Linked DNA regions of Homo sapiens. The protein of the gene in region 3 interacts with the protein of the main gene of each other region in a pairwise test. Each region holds a gene or a part of one and is shown on either strand. Other genes may lie near its edges. The genes, in order: HAO2, HSD17B4 and ACOT1.

Region 1 (4,194 bases), on a different chromosome or scaffold from region 3:
CCCCATTTCACGGGTGAGAAACCTGAAGTTCAAGAGGTTAAAATACTTTGTTCAATATTACATATCTAGTAATGTGTCACGATTCCAGTGGCCTGGCTCTTAAGCACTATAGAAAGAAGAAAATGGGCACAGCCAAGTGTGGTTTATGGAATGACAGAGTTGGCACGGACCTTAGAGGATTAAAATGTCATGGACATATGCAACTTTGCTTTCTTCCCTCAAAAAATCATAACTCAATCAGAAAGTTAAAAAAAATCTTAATTATTCAGCCAATCACTAAAAAATAACTTCTTATGTTTAAATCTGTCTTAACAGTCTACAGAGCACTCTTCTATACGTTATTCCATTTGGTGCTTACAACAATCCAGTGGGCAATCAGAGAGTGTATGTATGAGCCCCATGTTATAGATAAAAACATTAAAGCTCGGATAATTCACGTGAGTATCCAAGCTAATGCAACAGAAATGGCAAAGCCTGACCTGGAATCCTTCTGACTTGTTTCCAATGTCTTTGAGCCAGTATGGAGTGTTACTGGTATGGGGGAGACATTTAAGTCTCTGTTCTGAATGGTCAGAGAGTTGCATAAAATGAGCTTGGTCAATTCCCACAAAATCCAGGCCATTGGGAAAGGAGTTCTATGTGACACTGTGAGATCACTGCACCTGCCTCTTCATCTGCTCAACAAGGATAGAATGTGCAAAACAGACATCAGAATTCACACAAAGCTCCAAAACAGGCTCTGACGTCTACTCTGTCCACTAGTGACTTCAGGTCTTGCAGGTGTACCTATATCTCACAGTGGCAATCACTGGGTTGTAGCAGGAGAGAGAGGAGAAAAGGCAGAGCAGTTGGGGATGGAAGAGCCCAGCTATGGAGTGCAGTTTTTTCTCTCTTTGCCTTCCTCCTGGCTTCTCTGTCTACGGCAACTACCCAGACTGTGTTTCTGAAGGCCATTGCTTTCCACCGATCAACTGTGCCCAAGGAACTAATGACTGAGGGAGTCAGTGGAGTAGAGAAGACAGACTATATTATAAGCTTTGGCACTTGGCAAACATAGGCTGAAATCTCAGCTCTACTACTGGCTCACCACGGTTCTGTGCAAAATTTATTTGTTAAAGGAGAATATTAACATCCATCCCATAGGGCTGCCATGAGGACTAAGCAGTATGGCCCCTTTGAAATTTCTAGAACAGTGCCTTGTATAGACTAGATTGTTAATAAAGGCAGCTCCATGTTCATTATTCCTCCTGTTGATGACATGTGTGATTTCATCTGAGGCTCTGGAAGTGGAAAGCTGCTTCAGGATTTGAGTATTTCTGTCATAGTATAATTTAAACCCTCTGTCAGATTTACTCATTAGTTTATCCAAGAAGGTTTATTGACACACACTCTCAGCCAGGGTGGCGGAGGCATATACTGCTCCCCACATGCTTAACATTTCGCTGTTGCTTAAATACAGGCATGGCTCTGTGACTAGTTCTTCTGGCCAATGGCCTGGGAGTGGGAATAGCAGGTGTGAATTCTAGGCCAAGGATTGAAGAGCTGGTATGTGACCCTCCAGCTTTGTTTCCTCCTCTACAGCGATCCTCCATCCTCAAGAAGGCAAAGCTGTAAGAGAAAGGCCACTTGGATTCCCAAAACGCCATTTGGAAAAGGGTAGCCCTGGAGATCAGCTGATATTGTGTAAGGAAGAAATAAATATTTATGTGTTATCTCACTAAGTTGTTAAGGTTTATTCTTTACTATAACATAGCCTGATTTAACATAATATATCAAAGTATTATGCTAAACACTAGAGATATGGGGGGGGACCTTTATCACATCAGTTTCTGCTCTCAAGAAGCTTACAGTCGAAGAAGACAGACTTTCATAGCTCATCATTTGATAGCTGATACGATTTAGAGTACAACAGGAGTCCCTTTGAGGGGAGAGTTACCTGGGAATTTGGCAATATTCCCATTACCTCTCAAATGATATACCACAAGTGATGTTCCACTCAATCTATTCTAGACAAGCTCCAATTCTCATCTATCTTTAAATTAGGTTATTACTGTCTATCTCATAGGGATCTTGTGAGAATTGAAGGATCTTGTAAAATGCAGAATATAGTAGTAGTTAAGAATAAAAGTTTGCGGATTTTGCTTCCTGCTAATGGACGCTTTATTCTGTTCCATTGATCTGTTATCTATCTTTATACCAGTACCTCCCTGTCTTCATTAGCGTTCTTGGCAGTTCTCCGCAGGTTGATCTGTAGATTCAACTTAACACAATCAGAGGCTCTTCATTAGTGGGACTTTGTAACCCATTTGTTCCAAATAAGCTTATTGCTCAAAGGAACTACATTGTTTGAGACACATTAACTTCTTTACTTTTTTAGGAGCATAGCCATGTCACTGTTTTCTTTTGCTTGTGGCCGGGAAGCAGTGGTCAGAATACTAAATATATCCCTGAAGGCAATAGCAATACCTTTTAGGTTTTCAGAACGCTGTCAAGTGAAAACATTTTAACCCATTTTTCCTCCTATGGACACCCACGAATATTCCACCATACAATTCTAAGACTCAACTTCCTAGACTTAACCTTCTCTGTCTGTATCCTTTTTGAAACCAAATCTTCCTTTGCCCATGCCCTCTGAGTTCCCTAACACCTGTCTCCCTAGGACCATCTTTGCCAAGGTCCTTGCCTTGCAAACTCATAGTTGGCTTCCACGATATCTTCCATTCCCATCCTATCTGGCACTTCATCACCCTTCTCAGTTCCAAGCACACAGAACACACTCAATGACAAACCTTATTCTAATGTCTTCCAGTCCTCAGGGAAAGAAGTGTTTAGACGCAGCCACTCAAAGCCTGGCTCACTGCCGGAGGTGTTAGGAAACACACCACATCACTACCCACAGTTCAGGCTAAAGAAGAGGCTGAAGTCTCAAAGTTAATCTTTTAATGAAAACATCCAGCTTAGCAGTAAATAAGCAACTAGGCCAGAGCAAGGTTGACTTTGAAAGAATTTTGCTGACTTTGCAAATTTACTTCAAAATTAAGTGAAGTTTATTACAAAATTAAACTTCAAAGTGAAGTTGTAATTTCCTACCTGAAATCACCCATTCCCTACCTCTAAATTCAAACTTGATGTTGTCCTCTGCTCATCACAGATTGTTAGAGGTAGGGAGTGGATGATTTCAGGTAGGAAATTACAAAAGTCCCCGGGTTGGAGGAGGGGCTTTTTGTGGTGATGGGGTTGGGGTGGGAGAAGAGCAAGCACAGCCTGGGAGCCCATGGGCAGGACAGCAGTGGGGACCCAGGCCAGGACGGTCCGAGCTTTGGGGATTTTGGAGGGTGCATAGTGTAGAGCCCTCCCTGCCCACAGAACTGTTCTGGGGAAGTAATTATGTCTAGATTAATATGGGAGTCAGGGAGAACCAGTGAAATTTTTGAGTGGAAAATTATTCAGGAATGTAGAAGAAATGCTAGGAAAAGCAAACTTAAAAGTACATGGAAAAATAGAATTAATTTCTCCAGAAGAGTTCTGTAGGGGTCCCAGAAAGGTCACTAATTTGTCCAGGTCTGTTCGTCTCCACTCCTCCCCCAGCTCTTGCCACTGCTCCTTAGTATTGCCACAGCTCACGTGTGTGATGCGCTTACGACGTGCCAGACACACTACACGCATTACTTCATTTGATCTTCACGGAAGGTCAATCTTTTCAAGATTGTCTCTTTTTCAGAAGAGAAAATGAGATTAACGAACATGCCCAAAGCCTTTCAGCAGTAAAGAGCAGAATTGGGATTTGAACCTAGCCTGTAGCCAACACACGGAGCAGAGGAGGCCGAAATCCTGAGCTGTACCGATGACCATAGCAGTGGGGTTTGCCTTTCCTTTAGAACCTGTAGTTAGAGAGCAAAATGATGAATTTACCACTGACTTGTCATACCATCTCCACTCAAGGCTCATTGGCTATTTATTTGGAGGGTAATCCCTACCTGCTATCTAGCCACTAGAGGACAGTATTACCTCAAAAATGCTTTCAAAAGTAGCCAAAATCTGGGTTCTGGAAATTTCTTTTCCATAGCAATTTTCACAATCTCCATAATCAGCCTCTAGGCCATGTCCTCGGTCAGCTCTCACAACACCTGGCCTGCTCACAGTCCCCTGATCCAGACCCTCCCTTGCTGTTTTCCAGACTCCGACTCTGTCTCT
Region 2 (3,649 bases), on a different chromosome or scaffold from region 3:
ATGGGCAAAGGACATAACAGACACTTCTCAAAAGAAGACACACAAGTGGCCAACAAACATAAAAAAAATGCTTCATAACACTAATCATCAGAGAAATGCAAATCAAAACCACAATGAGATACCATGTCACATCAGTCAGAATGGCTATTACTAAAAAGTCAAAAAAATAACAGATGCTGGTGAGGCTGCAGATAAAACAGAACATTTATACACTGTTGGAGGGAATGTAAATTAGTACAGCTACCATGAAAAGCAGTCTGGAGATTTCTCAAAGAACTTAAAACAGAACTACCATTTGACCCAGCAATCTCATTACTGGATATATACCCAAAGGAAAAGAAATCATTCCACCAAAAAGACATATGCACTCATATGCTCACTGCAGCACTATTCACAATAGCAAAGACATGGAATCAATCTAGGTGCCCATCAATGGTGAAATGGATAAAGAAAATGTGGTACATATATACCATGGAATACTACGCAGCCATGAAAAAGAACAAAATCATGTGCTCCGCAGCAACATGGATACAGTTGGACGTCATTATCCTAAGTGAATTAATGCAGGAACAAAAAACCAAATACTGTGTGTTTTCACTTACAAGTGGGAGCTGAACTCTGGGTACACGTGGACATAAAGATGGGAACAACAGACAATGGGGACTACTAGAGTAGGGAGAGCAAGAACTGAAAAACTACCTATTGGGTACTATGCTCACTACCTGAGTGATGGGATCATTCATATCCCAAAGTTTAGCATCACACAATACACCCACGTAATAAATCTGCACAGGTACCTCCTGAATCTAAAATAAAAGTTAAAATTCTTTTTTAAAATAATAAAGTTTATATAAAACCAAAAAAAAAAAACAGACAGAAAAGAAAGTACTGCTGCGTTCCTTCACTCCTTCTAGTGGTTATTTTTAACATGATTAGGGTAAGTCAGCCTATGACACTACCACTATAGCCAACAAATGAGCCATTAAGAGATGTTGTTATCAGTCTCCTGATGCTTGACACTCTGTGTCTCATCAATTGGTGTGTTTTATAAACAGTAGTAGATTATAAACAGTAGTCGTGACCTTGGTTTTCTGCAGTTTAAAAGGTTCCAAACCACAAATATCTCATATTTTGAACATTCACATTTACTACACAGTAAATTTTAAAACTGCTTAAAGAAAATGCACAGGCTGAGAAAAAATAATTCATGAGAAATATAACTTGAGGCTAAGGAGGTAAAAAAAAATGAAAAAGTTATTCTCTACACCTTCCTATTCACATCACTGTTCAGTTATCATCACTCTGGAGTATACATCTAATCTCTCTTTTCGTATTTTAAAATCCCTAACGGCAGAAACCTATCTTGCACATTTCTACTTCCCTTATAACAATGGTTTCCAAGTGGACCCATAGGGCTGGGTACATATGAAACATGTAAGGAGCTTCCTAGCCACTGTCACCAACACCACCACCCCACCACATACATACATGCACACATACACACACACACACACACACACACACACACACACACACAATTTCCAAGGTTGGGATTGAGAATCTACATTTTACTTAAATTAACAGATAATATAATGTAATAACTCGGGTGATTTTGATATACAGACAGGTTAGAAAATTACCTACTACCTAATACTGTGCCTTGCAAATACTGGGTATCCAGCAGATATTTGATCAATGCACAATCACCACAAAGTGTACTGTTTCACATAAAAAGAGCTGTTTTGAAACCTTATGCTATAATACTTACACTGAAATAAAGCTATTCAGCTTCAAGCAATAAAAATCTCATACATTTTTTAGAAAAATAAAAAGGTTTAAGAAAAATATTCAAGTAGGATTCTAGCTACTTGCCGACCTCTACATTGTATAACATGAAATGACAAATATTAACAAAACATTCCTTTTTGTATTCTACCACCTTATATGACCAGTATATAATTAGACAACATTCAAACATCAAAGTAGAGAAATAAATATATCCAATTATAGTGAAAAAAATTAAAAGAGATTTACTAAACAAGTAAGATATTTTTGAGAAAAGTAAAAATGATTATTAAAGACTTGTTTTTATTTTCTCCAAAAAAAAAGAAAAAAATGAATTACAAGAAATTCTGTATCTTTTAACATTGTTTGCTTTATGAAAATCAGTATAAAGATAAATACCTGAGAAAAGAACAATAATCATAAGAACCATAACAGATTATATGCAATCACTAAGTCTAGAGCACATACACGAACGTTCCTTTCAGTTGTTAATAACACATACATCAACAGAGATAAATTATGAAATAAATTTTTAAGACTATTAAAGGACAAAGCTTAAGGTGACCAAAACAGATACTAGTTAACATCAGTCTACTCTAATGGCTCACATGTGCATAACAATTTGTGATATGTTTCATTAGGTCACTCTATACCAGTTTAACACACTGATGTTGTTTAAAAGGTTAATCTGGAAATAAAAGTATGGTATTATGGAATTAGTATATCAATAACTCACCTGCTCTGGGAAGTGGTTTATATAACTCTAAGTACTGCTCTCCATGAAGAACCTATGTTAGGGTAAACAAAATTTTATTAGCAAACTTTCTTGCTCCACAGGTTCTGCCTATGGATACTGTTACTCGCAAGTGACATTTTACCATCCACAGGCTCACATTTCTCTCCAAGTTATCTATCTCTGTTTGGCTTCTTCTTAATCATGTGATTGAAAAATAATCAATCCCCCAATCTCAAGACAGTCAGCTCTTCTGGAGCAGAGAAGATATATTTGTGTTCTTTCTTGGCGTTCATAAAGCCTTGTTGACTGTTAATTACATATTATTTGCCAAGAGACAATAAACTAGGCTGTATTCCCAGAACTTATAACAGTGCCTGGAACATATTGGGCATCCAATAAATATTCATTGAATAAGAATGAACAAATGCGCCAGTGCTAGTAATTTCAGGTCACATATACCAAATACAAACGACACAACTAAAACACAAAGAAAAACCTTACAACCATGTTCAAAATGAAAGCACTGTCAATGTGAATATCCCTTTCTTATAATACTTTGTAAATTATCTACAAAGAGTAGATACTAAGGACACTGTGTAACTTAATAGCCACTTAACCTCAATGTATCAAACAAAGAATGCACCAAGGTATATAGGAAAACAACAGGACAGGAAAACCAAAACTTGAAGCATACACTCAAATGATCCCACTTTCACTGCAGAGGGCCAGTTTACCAGTCTTCCTCAGAACCCAAAAGGATTTTAAAAAAAAAAAAAAAGGAAGAAGAAGAAGGGGAGGTGGTTGATGAGAAGACAAATGAAGGTCAGCTTTACTGTGTCATACGGCTTGAAAAAGTCAAGGTTAAGAAGACTAGGATTCAAGTTCCAAGATGCATGAACACCATTTACGATTTCCAATTGTTAGGGGGAATTTTGAAACATTTGTTTTAATTTTTTGCATTTACATTGTTCAGAGTATATAGTAACTAACCATGGGAGTGTGAATGAAACAGCAAACTGCCCAGCACATATTTCTTGTCTTCCTCCCAACTTCATGAAACACTCTAATAAAATAAGTGGCCATCAACTCAGAGCAGCAATGGGCTAACTGATCCACCAGTAAATAAGT
Region 3 (4,303 bases):
GAAGCTAGCATTATCAATTGCTGACCAGTATGTGGAGGAAATGAAACTCACTGCTAGAAGGAGTCAACATATTCATCTGCTCTGGGCAACAATTTGTCTTAACTTACAAAGTTAAATATGTTATTCTACTTGTACATGTGCACCAGGAGGCATATTCCTTATAAGAGGAAAGCCATTGCAGATGAGCAGTCTGGATTAATTTAAAAAAAGAGCAAAGTCAACTGGAAACAGTCCAAATGTCCATCAACAATAGAACAGATTAATAAATTGAGGTATATTTCCAGCAGTCAAAGTGATTGAACTACAGCTAGAAGAATCAACATCTATCAAGATATACAAAAGAAAAGAAAAAAATAAAAAAGAATCAACATGGATGAATCTCCAAACCACTGTTGAGTGAAACAGTCAAACACTAGGAGAACACATTCAGTATCATTCCATTTAGATACAGTTCAAAAAATAGGCAAAATAAAATATTGTTTAAGGTACATAATCTAAGTGGTAATACTATGAAGAAAACCAAGAGTGATACACAGAAAGTCCAGGATACTGGAAAGAGAGGAAAGGGCACAGGGGTCTGTGGGACGTTGATGGTTTGCGGGTATCAGCACTGAACTATGTCTTAAAAGTGTTGCCTGTAAGGTGTTTGCATTCTTTTTTTTTTTTTTTTTTTGAGACAGTGTCTCGCTCTTTCGCCCAGGCTGGAGTAGTGGCACAATCTTGGCTCACTGCAACCTCCAACTCCCGGGTTCAAGCGATTCTCCTCCCTCAGCCTCCCGAGTAGCTGGGATTACAGGTGGCCGCCACCACACCCAGCTAATTTTTGTATTTTTAGTACAGATGGGGTTTCACCATGTTGGCCAGGCTGGTCTCGAACTCCTGACCTCAGGTGATCCACCCGTCTCAGCCTCCCAAAGTGCTGGGATTACAGGCGTGAGCCACCAGACCCAGCCTGCATTATTATTCTTTAATTTTGTGTGAAACACAAAACCTTTAATGTAAATGATAAAAATATTCAGTAAGTGGAGTCATTCAGAATGAGTAGCCTTTTGAGTCTGTCTCCATTGAATAAGTGCATTCTGTTGAGTGCACTGGAGAGGAATTTGTGCTCTTCTATGTAGCAGTCTTTCTTTTTGTTTCTTGGTGGTGCACCATTAAATGGATTCATTCACCAGTTAAAGGACATTTGGGTTGTTTCCAGTCTTTGGCTACAATGAATAAAGTCACTATAAACACTTGCCAGAAGTTTCTGGACGAACACAGGTTTTCATTTCTCGTGGGTAGATACCTAGGAGTGGGATTGCTGGGTCACATGTGTGGTAAGTATATGTTTAACTTGGTAAGAAACCATCCAACTGTTTCAGGAATAGCTTAGTTTTGCATTTTGTTTTGTTTCTTCCCAAGAACCTGGGCCCTTTCCTGGCATTGTGGACATGTTCGGAACTGGAGGTGGCCTGCTGGAGTATCGGGCTAGTCTGCTGGCTGGGAAGGGTTTTGCTGTGATGGCTCTGGCTTACTATAACTATGAAGACCTCCCCAAGACCATGGAGACGCTCCATCTGGAGTACTTTGAAGAAGCTGTGAACTACTTGCTCAGTCATCCTGAGGTGAGTTCTTCTCTCAGATTTATGGGCTATGATGTATCAGGTCTCTTCTTAAATGGTCTGGGTTTTCACAGAAGTTAGCTCATTCATGACAGCCATTCCCTACCCCAACACACACTACCTTTTTTAGTCACTTCTTATAGACAGTTTCTTTCTTTCTTCTTCTTCTTCTTTCTTTTTTTGAGATGGAGTCTCACTCTGTTGCCAGGCTGGAGTCCAGTGGTGCGATCTTGGCTCACTGCAACCTCCACCTCCCAAGTTCAAGTGATTCTTGTGCCCCAGCCTCCCAAGTAGCTGGGATTACAGGCACCTGCCAACATGCCTGGATAATTTTTGTATTTTCAGTAGAGACGGGGTTTCACAATATTTGTCAGGCTGGTCTTGAATTCCTGACCTCAAATGATCCACCTGCCTTGGCCTCCCCAGGTGCTGGATTACAGGCATGAGCCACTATGCCTAGCCTAATTTTTGTATTTTTTTTTTTTAGTAGAGATGGGGTTTCGCCATGTTGGCCAGGCTGGTCTCAAACTCCTGACCTCAAGTGATCTGCCCACCTCGGCCTCCCAGAGTGCTGGAATTACAGGCATGAGCCACCACACCTGGCCTCTTATAGACAGTTTCTATTCAATTCTATATTACTATATTTCCTGCTAGTAAAGATATTTGTAGTTGGTATTATGCAATTTTAAATTCCAGTATGTTTTTTCTTTCTTTTTTTTTTTTTTTTTTTAAGACGGAGTCTTGCCGTGTCAACGAGGCTGGAGTGCAGTGGCATGATCTCGGCTTACTGCAACCTCCACCTCCCAGGTTCAAGCGATTCTCCTGCCTCGGCCTCCTGAGTAGCTGGGACTACAGGCGCATGCCACTTCTGCCTGGCTAATTTTTGTATTTTTAGTAGAGACAGGGTTTCACCATATTGGCCAGGCTGGTCTCGAACTCCTGACCTCAAATGATCCACCCGCCTCAGCCTCCCAAACTGTTGGGATTACAGGCGTCAGCCACCACGCCCGGCCATGAGATGACGTACTTGTTGATGACGACTCAGTTTAGTTATGACAGTGGGAATGGGTGGCTCAGGTGGGAGACAGAAAAAGATCATGGGAGATAATGAGATTAAGGAACTGAGAAACCAGAGTAATTGATAGATCTTCCACATGGTTATCACCAAGAGTGGTGATGGACAAATTGTGGAAAGGAAGAGATAGAGGGGAGGTAAATTCCCAAAGCTGCAAATCTGGGTAAATGGTAGAACCCAGATTCAGACTCAGGTTCAACTAACTTCCAGGGTGGGCACAACTCACCATATTCCACTGTTTGTGGAGCCATTCTTCTTCTTTTTCCTTTGTCCCTTTCTCAGGTAAAAGGTCCAGGAGTTGGGCTGCTTGGAATTTCCAAAGGGGGTGAGCTCTGCCTTTCCATGGCCTCTTTCCTGAAGGGCATCACGGCTGCTGTCGTCATCAACGGCTCTGTGGCCAATGTTGGGGGAACCTTACGCTACAAGGGCGAGACCCTGCCCCCTGTGGGCGTCAACAGAAATCGCATCAAGGTGACCAAAGATGGCTATGCAGACATTGTGGATGTCCTGAACAGCCCTTTGGAAGGACCTGACCAGAAGAGCTTCATTCCTGTGGAAAGGGCAGAGAGCACCTTCCTGTTCCTGGTAGGTCAGGATGACCACAACTGGAAGAGTGAGTTCTATGCTAATGAGGCCTGTAAACGCTTGCAGGCCCATGGGAGGAGAAAGCCCCAGATCATCTGTTACCCAGAGACAGGGCACTATATTGAGCCTCCTTACTTCCCCCTGTGTCGGGCTTCCCTGCATGCCTTGGTGGGCAGTCCTATTATCTGGGGAGGGGAGCCCAGGGCTCATGCCATGGCTCAGGTGGATGCTTGGAAACAACTCCAGACTTTCTTCCACAAACACTTGGGTGGCCACGAGGGGACAATCCCATCAAAAGTGTAAATTTTATTTGATCATGTGGCCTCTCTGTTGCTAATCTCTCCTGGAAACATCTGCCACATTTAGTGTGTGTATGTGTATTCATTCTTTCTCATAACTTCTTAAAGTTTCTTCCCCTCATTATTAAAATGAATTTACCAGTAAGAATGAGTTTTTAAGATTTTTATAAACTGTATACTTTATCAGTTTGGGAAGGGAGTAACTGTAGGAAACACAAGAAGTGGAAAAAGTCTCCTCTTCCTATCTCAACACACAACTGATAAGGCTTTAGTTCTGAAAGGAAAAGTGAGTAACATCAATTAACAGTGTCTGGTACGTAAATGGAGTTCAATAATTATTTGCTGAATGAGTATAAGTGAGCCAGGCGTGGTGGCTCACACCTGTAATCCTAGCACTTTGGGAGGCCAAGGTGCGCGGATTACTTGAGGTCAGGAGTTTGAGACCAGCCTGGCCAACATGGTGAAACCCCATCTCTACTAAAAATACAAAAAATTAGCCGGGCGTGGTGGCGCATGCCTGTAGTCCCAGCTACTCAGGAGGCTGACGCAGGAGAATTGCTTGAACCCGGGAGGCAGAGGTTGCAATGAGCTGAGATTGCACTACTGCCCTCCAGCCTGGGTAACACAGCAAGACTATGCCTCAAAAATAAATAAATTAATTAAATAAATAAATGATTACCTACTGTGGAAGAAAAGCACATAATATAAAAAGTATATCAGATTTGAGTTTCTCCTTTAAG

What was found.
Region 1: the proteins of ACOT1 (region 3) and HAO2 come close enough for resonance energy transfer, tested with the Homo sapiens proteins (one large-scale study listed by BioGRID).
Region 2: the proteins of ACOT1 (region 3) and HSD17B4 come close enough for resonance energy transfer, tested with the Homo sapiens proteins (one large-scale study listed by BioGRID).

The regions. Positions count from the first base shown.
Region 1 is NC_000001.11:119,367,498-119,371,691, reverse strand, and holds the start of HAO2 (2-Hydroxyacid oxidase 2), read right to left. Parts: upstream 2,908-4,194; 5' UTR 2,790-2,907; intron 2,747-2,789; exon of another isoform or gene 2,684-2,746; intron 1,609-2,683; exon of another isoform or gene 1,361-1,608; intron 1-1,360. UniProt on the Homo sapiens protein: Oxidase that catalyzes the oxidation of medium and long chain hydroxyacids such as 2-hydroxyhexadecanoate and 2-hydroxyoctanoate, to the correspondong 2-oxoacids.
Region 2 is NC_000005.10:119,500,965-119,504,613, reverse strand, and holds part of HSD17B4 (peroxisomal multifunctional enzyme type 2), read right to left. Parts: intron 2,574-3,649; coding exon 2,522-2,573; intron 1-2,521. UniProt on the Homo sapiens protein: Bifunctional enzyme acting on the peroxisomal fatty acid beta-oxidation pathway.
Region 3 is NC_000014.9:73,540,089-73,544,391, forward strand, and holds the end of ACOT1 (acyl-coenzyme A thioesterase 1), read left to right. Parts: intron 1-1,198; exon of another isoform or gene 1,199-1,213; coding exon of another isoform or gene 1,214-1,319; intron 1,320-1,404; coding exon 1,405-1,607; intron 1,608-2,961; coding exon 2,962-3,567; 3' UTR 3,568-3,708; downstream 3,709-4,303. UniProt on the Homo sapiens protein: Catalyzes the hydrolysis of acyl-CoAs into free fatty acids and coenzyme A (CoASH), regulating their respective intracellular levels. More active towards saturated and unsaturated long chain fatty acyl-CoAs (C12-C20).